Linked DNA regions of Homo sapiens. The protein of the gene in region 1 interacts with the protein of each later gene in a pairwise test. Each region holds a gene or a part of one and is shown on either strand. Other genes may lie near its edges.

What was found.
Region 2: the proteins of RGS4 (region 1) and GABBR1 come close enough for resonance energy transfer, tested with the Homo sapiens proteins (one study listed by BioGRID).

Annotation. Positions count from the first base shown.
Region 1 is NC_000001.11:163,073,626-163,078,082, reverse strand, and holds the end of RGS4 (regulator of G-protein signaling 4), read right to left. Parts: intron 3,763-4,457; coding exon 3,523-3,762; 3' UTR 1,281-3,522; downstream 1-1,280. UniProt on the Homo sapiens protein: Inhibits signal transduction by increasing the GTPase activity of G protein alpha subunits thereby driving them into their inactive GDP-bound form. Activity on G(z)-alpha is inhibited by phosphorylation of the G-protein.
Region 2 is NC_000006.12:29,623,184-29,626,683, forward strand, and holds part of GABBR1 (gamma-aminobutyric acid type B receptor subunit 1 isoform a precursor), read right to left. Parts: intron 842-3,500; coding exon 707-841; intron 293-706; coding exon 122-292; intron 1-121.

The DNA of each region.
Region 1 (4,457 bases):
AGCAGTCTATCAATTTTGTTAATCTTTTCAAAAAACCAGCTCCTGGATTCATTAATTTTTTGAAGGGTTTTTTGTGTCTCTATTTCCTTCAGTTCTGCTCTGATCTTAGTTATTTCTTGTCTTCTGCTAGCTTTTGAATGTGTTTGCTCTTGCTTTTCTAGTTCTTTTAATTGTGATGTTAGGGTATCAATTTTAGATCTTTCCTGCTTTCTCTTGTGGGCATTTAGTGCTATAAATTTCCCTCTACACACTGCTTTGAATGTATCCCAGAGATTCTCGTATGTTGTGTCTTTGTTCTCGAATAATGAGTGTTTTTCAAAAGGTGGTCCTTGATATACATTATCTTCAGAAAAACGGTCAGCCAATATTTTTTTTTATTTCTTTAATAGACAACCATAAAGAAGAAAGAAAGGATGAGGGATGTAGAGACTGGGGAAACCAACACTGCTCACACTTGCTGCTAATAGCGTGACTTTGAATTACCCTGCAGTTCTTGATAGATATTATCAAATACAGGGAGCAGCAACTATACAGTCCCAGTGAGAGTCTGACACATCTATAGTATAAGAGAAGAATGATAGTTTTGAGGGGAGATTCTGAGAGTTTCCCCTCAAAGCACACAAAATTTAGATTCCTCTCTGAATTTTTTTCTTAAAAGATGGTTCGGTCCATAGTTTTTACCAGATCCGTAAATGGATCTATTTCTCAAAAGTGTTGAAGATCATCTATCCTTAACACCTTGTAACTACTACTCTTACAATGGGAAAGAAGGGTCAGGAAATGGGAGTCTCATGACATAATAGACACAGCACAGGGCCTATTACTGAGGATGTGAACATTTTATGACCTCTTTTCCAGGAAAGAGAATTAACAAAAGGGAGGGAAGGATTTTTGAAGTTTGGGTAAGAATCTATAGCTCCTTTCAACTCTCTCAATTTCCCACTGCTCTATCATCTCTCAAACAGGCGGGTAACTGGAAATAAAAGAATGGCTCTGGAAGGTGAACTCTATCCCTTGAAAATTGATTGAGAATCTGCAAGCAAATCACTTAATCTGTTTTGCAGTCTCTGAAGCTAAGATTGCCTTGGTTCTATGAGTAGAGCCAAGCAGAGCAGTGGCATGAACTAAAGAATAAACAATATTCAGTTTGTACTTTCTTTCCCAGAGTTCACTGGCACAGGAGGGATTAAAGACTCAGTATGAGTATTTTTCTAAAGTCACCCTACACCCTGATGTTTCTCATAGCATGTCTCTGGATCATTAATGTGTTTCCAAGCAAATAGTTTCATATGGAGCGTTTATTTACCCTTATTATTAAGATGCGTGTGTTTCACTGGAAGCATTAGCTTTGAGGCCTATCAAGCACATGATAGAAACAGGCATGCAAAAGGAAGGAGTATTCTGTCCAGGGAGCATGAGCAGGCAAGCTCACCATTGGAAATAGTGATGAAATAACAGGGAAATACAACTGAAAAACACACTCAAAAATGTATTACATAAAATAATTTACTTCTCATTCAGCGTGACCTTCCAGACCTATTAGTAAGACAGCAGTCTGTGAGTTCAGATACAATCTGAAAGTCATGACAATTATAATAGGGCAAGACCAATAAAGTTACACATTTGAAGTCAACTAGAGACAAAATTGTGGAACTGTGTATAACAGAAAATGACACTGATGAGGAACTCCAGGGATATTAAGGGCAAGATTGCCAGAGAGACAAGAAGGGTACAATTAGAAAACCTGCATCTTTAATACAGTGAGATTTGTATGCATACACTCTGGTGTCTTCATTTTGCAGCCCATTATATTGGCTTAAAAGCCAGAAAGGTGCTCATGCATGTAATTTATACTGGAGCAACGAATGCAGTGTATGTGGACGCGTGTGTGTGCACTTTGAAAGGCAGTAGTTTTAGAAGAATGAGAAGAAAATTACTTCCTGGGCATTCATTAATAATTCAGGTGATATCCTGTACCTCCATTTATAAAACAATATAATAATAATAACACGTACAAAATAACATCATAAATAACATAAATGAGAAGTTTTCAAGTATTTCAATGTGCCTTGAAAAGTTTCAAACAGTAATTCTCACAATTGGTTAGACAATCATTTTTTTTTTCTTTTCTTTTCCTCTCATTTAGTCTCAGAGCCTAAAAAGAAATGCCTCCAGTCTCTGTTAGCCCCGATGTTTGGAATGAAATTAACAAGATTCTACCTTAAAAGAGAAAACTTATGTGGGCTTTTCAAATTGTGAAAATTTGTTCCCTCTTATAAAATATAATCTTTCCCCTGCTGCTGGTTTATAAATATAGGCATATAGCCCAGAGCCATTATAAAGAAAAAACAACCAACCACAATAAACTAAGGAGCCTCATCTGATGGCTAAGGTTCTCAGGAAAAAATGAGAAGAGCACCTTGATCAGGAAAGGAAAAAAGGATAGAGGATAAAAACAGTAACCTTTAACTTCTATGCCCTCACTCAGCCAGTAACTTACGGCAGGTGTTGCTGGCAAGGCCTTAGCTGTATTTCTTCATTAAGTTGAACATCCTGTCTGCCAACTCCATACCAACCCAGCTGCTAATAAGCATGCCCTGAGCACCCAGGAAAAGAAGGGAAGGCTGGCAGCTTAGGAGCTCAAAAGTGCCATCAGAGAAAACCAGCTCAAGGGAGCTAAGGTATTTGCTCCTTAGAATAGTGCTCAAGGTGGAGGCTGTCAGTGGTCAAATCAAGCATGAAGTTCCTTGGATGCTTCTCCAGCAAGATCCATGGAATTTTACAAAACCAACTTTCCACAGGTTAGCATTTCTTTCTTAGCCTACATGGCAGTTAGTTCATTTTGCCCTGTTCAAATGTAGTATGAAAGAACAGAGATCAAAACACCCATGTAAGTACATACACATACTCTAGTTATGAGCACCTAGGGTCTTTCCCATCACTCTTGCAAAAGTGTGTGTGTGTGTGTGTGTGTGTGTGTATACATACACTCACACATACATATGTATACACAGACATCTATATACAGAAATAATGTATATGTGTGTCTAATGTATATATAATATATACACATAGACATACACACAAGCACATATCATAGCTCAACCTCATCTAAACATCTAGAGTCTGGAGAACGTGCTGGCCAACAGAATACATGTGCATGTGGATGTCATGTGACATGCACTAACCAACCATCCCGAGGTAAAACTGTTGGGAGGAGGAAACTGCCAACAATCTTTGAAAATCCAGACCTACCAGGCCATTATTTAGATATTTGCTCCCATGGAACCCTCAAAGAAACTTAGGAAAATTGGACTGGAATGGGGTCCCACCCTGATGAACACTCAAACACCAAAAGCTATATCTAGTTTATGCGTAGAAGTGACTCACACATGGCAGGCAGCATGAATATTAGGCTACAATGTGGATAAAGCACTGGAGCTTAATACAGATCAATATTTGGCCTCAGGTTTTCCAGAGCATAGAGTCTTGGCATTTCATCCCTCTGCCTTCAGGTGAGAATTAGGCACACTGAGGGACCAGGGAAGCACAGTCTGCTGAACTCTTGGCTCCTTTCTGCTTTTCTGCCCCACAGCTGGACGGGTTGACCAAATCAAGATAGAATCGAGACTTGAGGAAGCGGCGGTAGGAATCCTTCTCCATCAGGTTGAAAATCTTCTTCTGGGCCTCATCAAAGCAGGTTATTGTAGGCTCTAGCATGTTCCGGCTTGTCTCTTCCCTGGTGCAAGAATCCAGGTTCACCTGAGGGGCAAAGGCCAAGGCTTCATTAGACCTATATCCCTGTTGAGGATGCAAGCCTGTATGCTTTGTAGTGACTTGTAAGTGGCAGTGCACCCTCTGTATTTCAGAAGCAAAAAACAAAAGTGACATTGGGGTCCTCCTTGGCACATGTGAGAGAGTATGAAAGGTTCAGAATGAACCTTTCTGCTTTAGAGAGAGCAGGGCAAGATCTTCTGTTCTGTCTAACAAATTGGGGAGATTCATCAGAAAAATTCATGCAGGGAGGTTATGGTAAGCCACATGGATAAAAGAGATTTTTTAAAAAACTGATTTATTTGGGGTTGTCAAGATTATGATAGTCAGCTCCACTATTCTAGGAACCTTCACTAAGATCCAGAGAGTTCTCTGCCATAAAAGCTTACCTTTTTGGTCAGGTTGGCTAATGGGTAGAAGGAATAGATAGAAAGTTGGGTAGAGGGAATAGGTTCTAGTGTTTGATAGCACATTAGGGTGATATAGTTATCAATAGTTTATTGTATATTTTAAGATAGCTAGAAGAGGAGATTTGGAATGTTCTCAACACGTAGAAATAATAAATGTTTGAGATATGTATATAGCAATTGCCCTGATTTGATTGTTATCACATTGTATGCATGTATCAAAATATCACACATACTCCATAAATACGTACAATTTTTATGTATCCATAAAAAACC
Region 2 (3,500 bases), on another chromosome or scaffold:
GAATGCGTTCTCTTTCAATGAAGAATCAAGTTCTTGCCCCTAAAAGTGACTCTCACGTCACATCTCCTGGTGCTGGAATTTGAGCTTATGTCCCTTTACCCCTTGCCCAACCCCTCCTCACCGAAGTGAAGACCTCAGTGGTCTGCTGGATGGTAGCAATCTTCTTCCAGCCCCACTTTTCAAAGAGTTTCACGCGGGTAGGGTTGTGGAGTGTGGCTGATGGGTGCGTTCGGAAGAAAGTGGGGAAACGCTGCCGGTTTGACAGGGCTGGTGAGCTGGAGCCATAGGAAAGCTGTGGGGCAGGGAGAGTGAGTGCAACAGGGTCTGTTCACTGAGGACACCAAGAGTGGCCAAGAGTTCCTTTAACCCTCTTCCTGCCTTTGGGTTTCTCTTCCTTACTCTCTCCAAACCTCCCCACCTCTGGTCTGCCTAAGGAAAAGAGATTCTCAAAGGCCCACACACCCCTCACAACCGGGATGCTCTTTCACTGATCTAATTTCAATTCCTTCTGAAGAAGGAGGTCAGCTGCAGCACTGTCAGGCCACTGTTGCTAGGAGGCTGCCTAGCTCAGGTCTGCAGAGGACTCTGAATCTTAGTAGCAGGTCCTCCACACTCCTTTTCAATACAAACCCACAATCGCCATCGTCCCTTCAGTAGAGCTCAAAAGGGAATGACCCCATCTTCTGACCCCCATAGCCCTGCTTACCACAATGAGGTTCCACATCCTAGCAGCCTCAGCCACCAGCGTGGAGACAGAGCTGCAGCCAGGCATAAGGATGATCTTGATAGGGTCGTTGTAGAGCAGCTCATATAGGTACTTGGTGGCTTGGCCTGGATCACACTGAAAGACAAGAGGAGATGAGGGCAAGCTCTCCTGGGGCCCCTCCCCTGTCTGCAATTCCTGCTCTTATCTTTCTCGAACAAATTAGTTCCTTTCTCAATTACTCACTTTCATCATTAATTACCGTTTTCTTCTCCTTTCTGGCATCTCTTCCTGTCAAGTGCCTTTTTTCTCCTCTTTCATTAAACTTCCTTCTCTGTCTTCCATCTGGAGCCTTACCCATCACCTCTCCTGCACACCCCTCCTTTGGTATTAATGAACATACCACCTTACCTCCTTTCAGCTCACCCTCAGACATCCCCCTTCCCTCTGTCACCAAGCCCTTTACCCCATGTTTCTATGCTTCAAACACCAGTGGGTGGAAGAAGTCAGTAGGAATACGGTAAACTCTTTCCACATCCCCAGATAGCTTGCTCAAAGCCATATTATGAAAATTCCTTCCTCACCTCTGCAAACCCCTTCTCCCCACCTTCCATTTGTTTCCTCCCTCTTCTCTTTTCAGAGCTAGTGATAAGTAAAGAGAGAACAGGAACAAGACCAGTAGGGGGTCCCGCTCAGTGATCCATCCCTCCTGCTGGGCGCTGACATTTGACAGGTCCATTAGAAAAAAAGACACTGGGGGGTGGAAGTAGGGAAGAATGTAGGATGAGGAAAGAACAGAGAGAATGAATAGAATGGAACTCTCAAGAAACCAGACAATTTGAGAGGTGCCTTAAAGAGAGGCTTGGAGCTAGGGAAAGTAAACAAGCAGAAAGCTGGAGAAGAAAGGAAGCTTGGGAGGAGGGGAAATGGGGGAGGAAGAGCCAGCCTTGGGTCTCCCACTGCCTGTTCCCCTCCCACTGATATATGACATTTCAGAAGCTGCTGGAACCCCAATGCATGTGAAGACGAAATGGCAGCCAGTGGGGAGCCAGGGCAGAGGGGACACAGACAGGGGGCTCAGGGGACTAAGGAGGGTGAAATGTTGCCAGGAGGGGAGGATAAGTAGAAAGGAAATAAAGAAAGCACTCTGGAGCCTGCTTACCTCCCACTGAGGCCTGACATTTGGGACACGGTGGGAAGTTGGAGAAGGGGGAGCCAGGGGAAGCTGTTGGAATCTGAAGAACCAGCAGTCACTGAGAATTCTCTGTTGCCCACCCTACCCTCACTCTGGCCAAGGGCAGTGCTCAACAACATTGGAAGGTTTTCTCTTTATGCCTCCCACTAGGGCAACTTTGTAAATCTTTACCATTCTCAGGACCCACCTTCCTGCACTCTCCCCACATCTATTACTCCAGATCCTGCTCCCAGCTTCTCCCACAGCCCCTCAGTGCCCCTCCACTTCTCTAAAGACAGGGTTAATAGGAACAATGAGGACATACAAGAACATATAAGATACATATCAACAGGGCAAGGCATGCCCCCCATTTTGTTTCCTGATTTCTTATCTACCTTTTCTTGCAACCGTTTCCCTCTTCCACACACTATTCATCACTGCAGATTCTCTCCACCACGTGATTCTCTCCCCCTCCCCAATAGATTTCCTTAGTTCTCCTCCCTCTCTTTGCTCTTGCAAGGATCTGGATTTGCAGGCAGGAAACCGACTCATTCCAATTGACACATTCTGGTTCTTCTGCCTTCCCATCCCACCCCGCTTGATGCCTCTGATGTTCTCCAGTTCCCTTCTCCCAGGTCCCACGTCTGCTCCCCGCCACCTCCAGGGAATCACCTGTCATGGTGGATGAGTTTGAGCTCACAGCCAGGCCTCCCCTATCTCCTGTGATCCCCTATCATAAAGCCTGCACCCATCTCTCCCTGTCATTTTCTTCACACTCCACTCCCCAAAACCAATGATCTCTCTGACTGTCCCAAGTCTGACCCTCTACCAGATCTGATCCTCTACTTCTCTTCCTGCCTCCCGTACCCTAATACCTAATTATTTTCCTGTACCCTGCTGCTCTTCCCATAGGCATTCTGGGGTTAGCTTACAGCTCAGGAATCCACCAAGATAGGATGTCTATTAGTAAAAATACAGATAAATACTTGGGATTCATCCCTGACCAAGGAGCTAGAATCTGTATTTTTAACAAACTCCTCTGGTGATTCTTATGTACACTGAAGGCTGAGAACCACGAGAAAGTAACAGTCAAAAAGGATTTTAAGTTCTCTTGCCAAGCTCCTGATAATCCTTGTGCTCTCTTCTCTTCAAGCACCCTACCTTCAACCTCACTTCTGTCCCCTCACACACCTATCCCAGACACACACCTATTTCTAGGTGTATAGTGATGTTCTAAAAATGAATATAAATCCTTGGATCACCCCAAGGTTGATATTTGGTAAGATCACCAAATTCTCACCTTGTGTACTCTATTTCACCCTAACCCAATTCCTTAAGTCTCTGGGGCCACATGTCAGTGAAGATAAATTTGAGATCTTAAATCTCCTTCCCTGTGTCACATCCTTCCCTGCACCCCCAATTATTCATGTAGGGGAGAGGGGTGGGAAAAAAAACCTCATTATAAGCTATCCCCTAATACCCCTGGACCCAAATTTGCTTACCTTCTCTCTCTCCCTCAACTCACCTCCCTAATCCCTACATCCCATTTCCCTTCTCACATCCTAGAGGCCACAATGCTATAAGGGAAGGGAAGGTCAGGACCCAAGTTCCATAAGGTGCCCC